2 separate regions of the Homo sapiens genome follow, and region 1 is linked to region 2. Evidence: fine-mapped expression QTL. A gene starts in region 2. The other region holds a variant in brackets. All regions are shown on one strand. Distances are from middle to middle.

Region 1 (5,362 bases), 28 kb before region 2:
CCTTCCTTCCACCAAGAAATCTGGCCTGGAGGTAATTCAGGCAGAGCAGAAGTGAGACACTGCATTTTTGCTCCACTTAGAAATGAGCCAAGTTGGTAAATAAGATTTTTTTTTTTTTAAAGAGACAGAGTCTTGCTCTGCCACCTAGGCTGGAATGCAATGGCGTGATTATGGCTCACTGCACCCTCAAACTCCTGGACTCAAGCCATCTGCCGGCCTCAGCCTCCCGAGTAGCTCCCTGCTAATTTTTTTAAAAATGTTTTGTAAAGATGGAGTCTCGCTCTGTCACCCAGGCTGGAATGCAGTGGCACGATCATGGCTCACTGCAGCCTCAAATTCCTGGACTCCAGCCATCCGCCTGCCTCAGCCTCCCAAGTAGCTGGGGTTACAGGTGCATGCTGCCATGCCTGATTTTTAAAAATTTTTTTTGTAGAGACAGTCTTGTTCTGCCACCCAGCCTGGAGTGCAGTGCTGCAATCATAGCTCATTGCAGCCTCAAATTCCTGGGCTCAAGCGATTCTTTCCCTCAGCCTCGCAAGTAGCTGGAACTGCAGACACATGCCACCATGCCCAGCTAATTAAAAAAAAAATTTTTTTTTTTTTAGAGATGGGGCCTTGCTATGTTGCCCAGGCTGGGCTCAAATTCTTGGGCTCAAGCAATCCTGCCTCAGTCTCCCAAAGTGCTGGGATTACAGGAATGAGCCACTGTGACCGGCCTAAATAAGATCTTAAGAGCAAACTTCAAACACTTTGGAAAACAACCTCTTAGCACTGAGAAGTATATGCTTAGCATCACAGCACTGAGCTAGATGGGCCCCTCATCTAACCACCTGCATGTCCATCTAGGGAAACCACGGCCCAGAGGCGTCAGACTGAACCCCAGATCTCTGCACACCCAACCCAGGCTCACAACATAATACAACTTGCTCTCCTGTGGGCTTAACAGCTACGCTGATTGCAAATTCTTTCCTATTCACCACAAAACATCCTTTAGGGAAATAAACTTTATTTCTTTGACGATGGGCAGTAATTCAGAGGTATCCGAATTTCAGCGCAAGACCTGATCTGTTTCCACGGTACATGTGTTTCCACTGACTCCTCCTGGGTGCCCCGTCTATTGGAAAAGGCATCAGACGTATGAGCAAACCACAAAGACACGCAACACCACGGTGGAATCTCGCAAGGATGATGAAAGAATCTGAGGTCACATGGTAGAATTCCATTTATGTAAGGTTCAAAAGGAGGCCACATTCTGAAGCCAGGAGATGGAACGGCGGTTATCGTGGTGGGTCAGGGAGAGTGGTAGTAACTGGAAGGGGGTGAGAGGGGCTTGTCAATGCTGTTTCTTGATCTGGGTGCTGGTTACCTGGGTAGTTTAGTGTGTGAACAGTTATCAAGGTGTTTCTCTTACAACAAATAACTTTGTTCTCAATGAAAAGTGTGCATAAGGCCAGAAACAGTGGCTCGCACCCGTAATCCCAGCACTTTGGGAGGCTGAGGCAGGAGGACCACTTGAGCCCAGAAATTTGAGACCAGCCTGGACAACACAGAGAGACCCTGACTCTACAAAAAATTTAAAATTTAGCCATGTGTGGTGGCACATGCCTGTCGTCCCAGCTACTCGGGAGGCTAAGGCAGGAGGATCACTTGATCCCATGAGGTTGAGGCTGCAGTGAGCCGAGATTGCATCACTGCACTCCAGCCTGGGATACAGAAGGAGGCCCGTCTCAAAAAAAAAAAAAAAAAAAAAAAGTTTTAGGAGACATCAGGTATTGGGACACCCAGTCAGATGACAGAAAAAAACAAACAAACAAACAGCAAAACTGTCCCTTTTTAATCCTGCCCTGCAACTACAGATGGTACAGTTCCGCCTAGAGGCAGGGCTCCACCTCCAGCCTCCTCTGGCCCCCTCACCCCATGCTGTCACTAGGGCAGGGGCTGCAAGAGCCAGCTGGGAATGTCACTGGAGACAAAACCCCACACCTGTGGTCGAGCTCTTCCCAGCCTAGCAGCCATGAGTTTCACACTAAATCCTGGCCCACCCCACAGAAGGGCCCTGGGTGCACACAGTCCTCCCAGCCAAGCGATTTGGTGACGCTGTGACGTGTTTCAGGAAGTTCAATTTTAACTCTGTTCCCACCCTTCGCTCCAGGACTTATAATTCTATAAATTAATCCTGAGTTAATTATCCCAAATGCAAAGATTTACATGCAAAGATGTTTCCCCAAAGCTTTCACTTGGTACATCCACAGATACACACACCCACATATAAACAAGGAGTAGGTGCAGGCAACCTGATGCCCAGCAGAGGCTGATTCCAACACTGGACAGGATGACCTCAGGGGCATACACAGTGCAGCCCGGGATGCAAACTCCAGACCGTGCATCTCAGGGTGGGATCCATGCCTGACTTTGCTTCCCTCTACTTTTCTGTATTTTCTAAGTCACCTAAGGTAAGTATTACTTTTACAATTTGGAAAGAAACAACAGAAACCTCATCCTTTAAAAACAAAAGCAGGCTGGGCGTGGTGGCTCACTCCTGTAATCCCAACACTCTGGGAGCCAGAGAAGCAGGAGGATTGCCTGAGGCCAAGAGTTTGAGACCAGCCTGGGCAACATCGCAAGACCCCATCTCTAACAAAAAATTTAAAATATGAGCCGGGCGTGGTGGCACGCGCCTGTCGTCACAGCTACTCAGAAAGCTGAGGTGGGAGGATGGCTTGAGCCCAGGAGTTCAAGAATGCATCGAACTGGGATTGCGCCACTGCACTCCAGCCTGGGCGATAGAGCAAGACCTCATTTCTAAAAAAATTTTCCTTTTAAATAAAAAATAGAGCAAAACAAAAAGCAAAACCAACCATCCAACACAGCTGCTCCACCCCATGACAGGAAAGTTGGCCCCAGGCGGGGGCAAAGGGGCAGTCCAGGAAGTACAGGGATTCATGCTGCCTTCCAAGGGGAAGTGAGGGAGCCGCCTGCCTCTTCCCTGGAGGGGCTGGGGGAAGCCGATCTGAGGCCTGGCCATGCGAAGCCCCATCTGCCCTTCATCTAGGCTTCTGGAAGGTAGGGCGTCCTTCCTCCACGTGGAGGACGGGATTTAGGAAAAGGGGCTGTCTCCTCTCAGCTCGGGCTGTGCATCAGGTACTAGGAGCACTCAAAGAGAGCCCCCAAACTCAGGTTTCTCCATTTCTCTCCCGTCCCCCGGGGCGGGCACGGAGGGACTCCGCCGCCGCCGGCAGTATGCGGGGTCCAGGCCGCCCCATGCCTGCTCTACCAGGAGGGGAGGCCAGGATCCGCCGGGCAGACGGCTCCGCGGTTCAGGTTTCCACCCTTGTTATTTAAAGCCTGAGCCTGG[C/A]TCCTGGCAGGCGGGCAGGGGCGGCCGCCTGCCTGCGTGACCAGGATGAGAAATCGCAGTCCTGACGCGGGCCTGCGTGCCTATGGCAACTGGCGTTGTGGCCTTGGAGACTAATCTCCGGGCTGTCAGCCGGCGGGGACTCTCCAGCAGGGCCACGGCTCCCTGCAAAGGCCCTTGGCTGGGGGATCGGACAAGGCTCTCTTCCAGTGGAGGAGGGGGCGCTTGCCCCTGCACTGGGGCCCCTGGCCAGGCTCACAGATCCACATGTTCCCACGGCCACAGCCTCCGTCACACACACACGTGGGGACAATCACAGGGGTGGGGACACAGCCACCAGCTCACAGGCACCAATACTCTCTCACACTGTGTCCCACACCGCACAGGGCCCAACAGCAGGTGCTCCTGCCCTTGAAGGATTCCCAGGCTGGCAGGGAAAATGACCAAAAAAATAGACTACTGGGAAAAAAAAAAAAGATTAAAACACAGTGCAAGGATTTGAGCTGAGTGATGGTTACATGAGTATACAAGTCGGGGGAAAATTCATCACACGGGATGCTTAAGATTTATGTACTTGGGCTGGGTGCGATGGCTCACGACTGTAATCCCAGCACTTAGGGAGGCCGAGGCGGGCAGATCACTTGAGGTCAGGAGTTTGAGACCAGCCTGGCCAACATGGCAAAACCCCGTCTCTACTAAAAATACAAAAATTAGCTGGGCATGGTGGACGCGCCTATAAGCCACTCAGGAGGCTGAGACAGGAGAATTGTTTGAACCCAGGATGGGGACGTTGCAATGAGCCAAGACCACGCCACTCCAGCCTAGATGACAGAGCAGGACTCTGTCTCCAAAAAAAAAAAAAAAAAAAAAAGATTCATGTACTCATGTACTTTACTGGAAGTAAATTATGCTTCAGTGAAAGATAAAAATAAGTGGCATGGAAGAAGCCCAGGACGGCGGGTGAGGCAGTCAGGGTGGGGCTTCCTGGAGGAGGTGACACCTGAGCTGCCGGGACCCTCCCAGGGGAGTTGGCGTTTGCAGGTGAGGAGGGGAGACAGGCACTGTGCCCAGGCCCTGCTCTTCTACAAGGGAGGCGCCTTCCCTGCCCCACCGCAGCACCCACCTCCCCTAGAAATAAATGCTGAATAAATAAAGACCTGTTTGAAGGAGTGCCAAATTACTGGCTGCCCAGGAAACCCAACCGCCAGCCTGGGCCGCCCACGTGTCCTGGTCGGGCCTGAGCGGGGCCAGAGGCTGTGGGAGTGGGTGGGTGGGTGGGGAACAAATCCAGCTCTGCATGGCTGGAGTGTGCAGGGCAGGGCAGGAAGTGGTGGGCAGAGACCAGCGTGGCCATTGGGGTGAGGCCAAGGATCTCGGAAGGTCAGCCTCGCTGCAGGGTGTGGGGCAGGGGTGAGACGTGGGCAGTGAGGGGGATCCCAGGAAGCTACGGCGGAGGAACTGTCGGGTCATGCTTGGAGTTGGGGAGCCAGGAGTTGCCAAGTCTCTGCGACAGCCCAGGCCAGAGACAGCCAGGCATGAAGCAGACAGCAGCAGGGGATGGAGGACGGGGCAGAGCTTTGGGACCAGGAGCTGGCGACGGGGGGTCCCAAGGGAGGCACCTGGAATGACCACCAGGTTTCTGATCCCAGGAGTTTGAGACCAGCCTGGGCAACATAGTGAGACCCCATCTCTATAATTTTTTTTTTTTTAATTAGCCTAGTGTGATAGCATGTGCCTGTAGTCCCAGCTACTCCAGAGGCTGGGGTGGGAGGGTTGCTTGGGCCCAGGAGGCAGAGGTTGCAGTGAGCCATGATCACGCTACTGCACTCCAGCCTGGACAATACAGCAAGACCCTATCTCAAAAAAAAAGGTGGGGCTGGTGGCTCATGCCTATAATCCCAGCACTTTGGGAGGCTGAGGTGGGTGGTTCAGTTGAGGCCAGGAGTTTGAGACCAGCCTGGCCAACATGGTGAAACCCCATCTCTACTAAAAGCATAAAAATTAGTTGGG
Region 2 (5,362 bases):
TCGGCCTCCCAAAGTGCTGGGATTACAGGCGTGAGCCACTGCGCCCGGCCAGACTACAGGATTTATGAGTCGGCTGAGGAAGCAGTGAGTGGTCAGAGACTAGACCCTGAATGAGAATCATCTGGGAGCTGCAGTCTATGGTTCCAAGGTCATGCTTAGGACGTGAATGTCCCAAGCCATCACCCACCATCCACAAGACCCCAGGTCCAACAACCAAGCTGTCACCAAACCGTGGATGGCCTGGCCTCTGGAGTCAAGCAGGCTGCAAAAACAGCTACCTCCAAGACCCTAGATTACAGCTGCCACTCAGACTATTGCCAAACACCAAGTGCTGACGACTACCACCTCATCAGAAGGCTAGCCGGGCTCCTGGGAGGCTGCCTTCAATGAACAGATAAAAATTATTTGTGATTAGCATACTGCAAATAAATGACCCTTCTCCCAACATCGAGAGAACAGTCCTTTTAAGTAGGTTTAGCGTGCCCCCTACAAAGCTGTCTTCAAGACCCAGTTTTACAACCATCGGCCTTAAGTTCTCGAACATTTTAAGAGTGCAGGCTCTGAGTGGCTGCGGAGTTTCAACCCTTCCTTCCTAGTTTCCTCTGTGGGGTCCTGTGGGACCCTCTGAGTTAGAACTGCCAATTTCTAGGTCACCCTCAGAACAGGCTGTGGAAGAACGAGGTGTGGACTTGAGCCTCCCACACCCCAGAGGCAGGATGGGGGTTCCGATACCCTGTCACCTTGGGGCCAAGCCTGTCCCTTGGTCCGCAGATGCCTGCTCAGAAGAGGTCAGAGTCTATCTCACACCCTCCTGGGCCCCAAATAGGGCGGTTCATGACGGCCACCTAACTACCTTATACCTAGCCCCTCCCTGCCAGCAGCCACCAGCCTCCAGCCACCTCCTCCTGCTTAGAATAAATAATCGATGCTGGTGCCCTTCCCCTCTGGAATGACACTGCTGAAATAAATGAGCTGCTTGGGGCACCTTCCAAGTCCCAAGGCCCCGGGCCAGTGCCAAGGAGTCAACAGTCCTGGCCACGGGGCAGCCAGACACACAGAGGCCGACCATGGCAGCGGCGCGCCAGGGTGGCTTCTAGACACCCCTCTCCTCTTCTAAGAGAAACCCCAGCAAATGCCCACTTCTCCAAAAACTGCGGGGGCCTGCCCTCCACTCCCACCCGCCAGGCCCAGGGCCATCCCGGGGTACCCCTTGGCACATTCTCCATCCAAGAGTCAGTGCTCCCCTCACAGGCCCTGCAGCGAGACCCCTATGTCCCAGCACCCTCGCTTCAGCTGGGATGGGGACACAGGAGACTCCCACCGCAGGACCTTGGTCCTGGGAGGTAGGGTCACTAGGCCAGACGCCAGAGCTCCAGCCCCCTCCAGCACTGCCAGGAGGGTGGAACGAACTCTCAGCGGCACAGCGGCCCCCTTCCCTGGGCCCACGCCAGGCGAGGCAGGGTCTCACTCCCTGGCTGCTGGCCAGGGGTGAGGAGCCCAGGAGAGGTGTCAAGCCCATCATGCCCAGGGTACTTAGGATGGGGCGGGTGGGTGTTCAGCACCCTGTGGCCCCTCCTCTGTCCTCTCCACCCATCTGCAGGAACTCAGAGACCACCCACAGACCGAGTATCCCCAACTTACTCCTCTGAACCCTTTGTGGTCCCCCCACTGCCACCTTCTGAGTCCCCTCCACCCGGGATTCAGCGGCCACCACCACACAGGCCAGCCCCCTCCCCGGGGCCGGGGCGGGGGGTCCACTACAGGAACCACCCTGCTGGGGCAATCCTGGCTGGACTGGACTCCGCCTGGGAGTTGGGGGCGCGGGCCAGGGGCTGGCCCAGACCGGGAGAAGGTGGAGGGGGGAAAGGCGGGGACCGCGGCCTTCCCAGCCCCCTCTGCTCCCACCCCGGCGCCCGCCACCGCGGGCAGCGCGACTGACCTCATTCGCCAACTGCAGCAGCCTGCGGGCGCCGGCCCGGGACGCCCCCCACCTCCAGAAGAGCCGGTGGCAAGGAGGGAGGGGGTGACAGCTCCCAGCTCCCGGCCCCTCCCGGGCAGGTGGGGGGCGGCCGTCCCTCCCCTCCCCCCGGGCCCGAATTATAATCCCAGTCACGTGCCTCCCCGGGCACCCAAAAGCCGGCCCCAGCTCCTGTAACACCTTGAGAGGGGGAGGGGCGGGGACCCCCCCCCCCGGAGGCGGAGGGGATCGGGGGCGGGGGTGGGGGAGAAGGGGAGAAGGGCCTCGGTGCCCGCCCCCCGCAAAAGTTTCTCCTACCTTGGAGGATCCCCAAGCGCTCCTGCCAGCGGCGCCCCGGCCCCGGCCCGCGGCCAGGACTCAGCCTCCTGCCGCTGCCTCCTTAATTAATCCGGGAGAATGGGGGAAGGAGAGGCAGAGGGAGGCGAGGACGGCGGCGCGGCGAGGGCGGGGAGGGAGGCGCGGGGAGGGGGCGCGGGGGGGGAATCGGCCGGCCGGGGGGCTGGCGCTCGGCGGCCCCCACCCCCGGCGCGGGCTGCGGCGGAGGGCGGGGCGGCGCGGGGAGAGGAGCGGAGAGCGGGAGCGCGGGGAGGCTCTTTGTTCTGTAATCCCAGTAAGATTGCCAGCCATTCGCCCCGGCCCTAATCCCAGCCCCGCGCAACACCACCCTCCATTGGCTGCCATTTACATACGGGATTAGCCCGCCCCGCGCCCCGCGCCCCTGCGCACCCCCCTTGCTACCCAGCGCCCCTGCGTCCCGGGGACCTGGGCACCGCGGTGGGGAGAGCGCGCCGCACCCCTCGGCCCCGGACCTGCGGGGAGGGGCGGTGGCGCCCTCGGTTCTCCCCCACCAGCGCCGGATTAGAAAAGCCTGGGCGCGCCCCCGTCTACCCCCACCGCTCCCCACCACCACTGGGAGAGCAGCCGGGCGCAGGGGGCTGAAGTTGGAGGGTCAAGGTCACCCAGCTGGAACGCGCGGAGGCCCTGAGTGTCCCGGCTGGTCACTCCCGCCTGGCCCGGGTTCTAGTCCTAAGGCTTGGGCCAGGTACCTCTTACTCTTACAGCCTTTGTCCCCCTCCCACCCCTGAGATGTGCAGGAAGGCAGTGACAGGCCGAAAGTCGCAGCAGAGCCAACTGGACTCTTGGTCCCATCTTGTCTGATGGGACCTCCCTCTGATAGGCTTTTACCCCTGTCCCCCCAACCAGCCCCCCCGCCCCCCGCCCGCCCCGCTCCCACCAACCACACACACACCACAGCAGCGCTCCTACTGAATCAGTGCGCACGCCTCCCATCCGGCCCCAAAGCCATAAATCCTAATTCAGCACAAGGAACACAGTCCTTCCCCCACGTGGTGCCCTGATCCCTGAACTAGACCTTGGCTAGACTGGGCATGGCAGGGAGGGAGGGACTCACCCCAGGCAGGCCCCAACCCCAGGGAGCTTCTGGCTTAGAAGGACAGCCAAACATAGATCGAGAATCTCCCAGGTCCTGGCAAAACCCACAAGGTCTCCCCACAGCCTCCTGGCCAAACTGCCTTTGCAAAGATTAGGACAGTGACAGAAGTTTAGCGTGGCTGACTCCATCTTGCTTCCAGCCTCACGCGCTGGCTGTCTTCACTCATTCCGGGGCATAGGCCAAGCTAACCGGGGGAGGAATTTAGTTTATAGTTCAACTTTGAAACAAGGATGATAATAGTTACTCCTTAAACCTAACCTGCTTTTTATACAAGAGACCAAAACCACCTTTGTAAAACTAACGAAAGGCCGTGAGATTAGGATTATGGGAGGGGCCTGGACGCTGCTAAAACCTACGCATCGTTTTTATAATCTGACTGCTCAGGAGTCATGTGGCGAGAGATCACAAGATTTGTGAGTTCCCCACTTCCTCCTATAGATAGCATCTCTATTGTGGAAACTGAGATTGGTCTTTGGAGATGTTTTTCAGACTTTCGCATTCGGGCAACCGACTGACTCACCTGGACCTGTGTGACTCATGACTCAGCCCATCCTGTGGCCCCCACTCAGAGACCGACTCAGTGCATAAGGACCGTTTGCCACACCCCTGTGATTTCATCTCCAACCAATCAGCAGTACCCATTCCCTGGGCCCTTGCCCACCAAATTATCCATAAAAACCCTAGCCTCTGAGTTCTTGGGGAGATTTATTTGAGTAATAACTCCAGTCCTACTGCTTGGCTAGCTCTGCATTAATAAGACGCTTTTGGCTGGGCTCAGTGGCTCATGCCTGTAATCCCAGCACTTTGGGAGGCGAAGGTGGGTGGATTGCTTGAGGTCAGGAGTTCAAGACCAGCATGGCCAACACAGCGAAACCTGGTCACTAAAAATACAAAAATTAGCCGGGTGTGGTGGTGCATGCCTGTAATCCCAGCTACTCAGAAGGCTGACGCATGAGAATCACTGGAACCCAGGAGGTGGAGGCTGCAGTGAGCCAAGATTCAGCCACTGCACTCCAGCCTGGGTGACAGAGTGAGACTGTGTTTCAAAAATTAGGCCAGGCACGGTGGCTCATGCCTGTAATCCTAACACTTTGGGAGGCCGAGGCAGGTGGATCACTTGAGGTCAGGCATTCAAGATCAGCCTGGCCAACATGGTGAAACCCTGTCTCTACTAAAAACACAAAAATTAGCCGGGCGTGGTGGCAGGCACCTGTGATCCCAGCTGCTTAGGAGGCTGAGGCATAAGAATCGCTTGAACCTGGGAGGCGGAGGTTGCAGTGAGCCAAGATCGCACCACTGCACTCCAGCCTGGGCGACAGAGTAAGACTGTCTAAAAAATTTTAAAAATTAAGAAACATAAAACTATTTCTCGCTGTAATACCATGGTCTCAGTGAATTCTTCCTGTGCAGCGGCAGGAACACCCGTCAGACAATTACACTGGGGTCTCTTCTGGACACACACCAGGAACTTGGTGAGGGTTAACTTTGGCTGACCAGGTCTCCTATAGGAAACCCACAAACCCATCAGACTGAGAGCTCCTCCCAGGCAGGCCACATCTGCAGTGCCCAGCACAAGGCAGGGCGCAGAGGGGCCCTCATGCCCACAGAGGATGTTGGGCCATGTCAGGGTTGGGAATGAAGTCACCAATGCTCCCTCCATCCTTCACCACCCTCCTGTTGTAAGGAGGTCTGGGACATCTCAAGGCACCCTCCTGTGTGGCCCTCTGAGACCCAGGTCGTCTCCCACCCTGCCTCTTTCTCTTTTTCTTTTCTTTTTTTTTTTTTGAGACGGAGCCTTGCCCTGTCACCCAAGCTGGAGTGCAATGGCATGATCTCGGCTCACTGCAACCTCCGCCTCCCAGTTTCAAGCGATTCTCCTGCCTCAGCCTGCCGAGTAGCTGGGATCACAGGCACGCGCCACCACGCTGGGC

Evidence for each region.
Region 1: its variant is fine-mapped to the expression of GTF2IRD1 in tibial artery (GTEx, PIP 0.99).

Annotation. Positions count from the first base shown.
Region 1 is chr7:74,478,614-74,483,975 of GRCh38, reverse strand. The region is part of intron 1 of GTF2IRD1 (GTF2I repeat domain containing 1); the gene reads right to left. Among named protein-coding and RNA genes, the nearest start is that of GTF2IRD1, 27 kb to the right of the region's middle. RefSeq lists enhancers at 3,428-3,477, 3,488-3,537, 3,588-3,637, 4,898-5,362. The variant C/A (reference allele first, on the strand shown) is at 3,356.
Region 2 is chr7:74,451,090-74,456,451 of GRCh38, reverse strand. GTF2IRD1 (GTF2I repeat domain containing 1) reads right to left here and starts at 2,546. Exons shown (of 27, transcript NM_005685.4): 1 at 2,276-2,546. RefSeq lists silencers at 1,924-1,993, 2,496-2,845 and an enhancer at 3,731-4,250.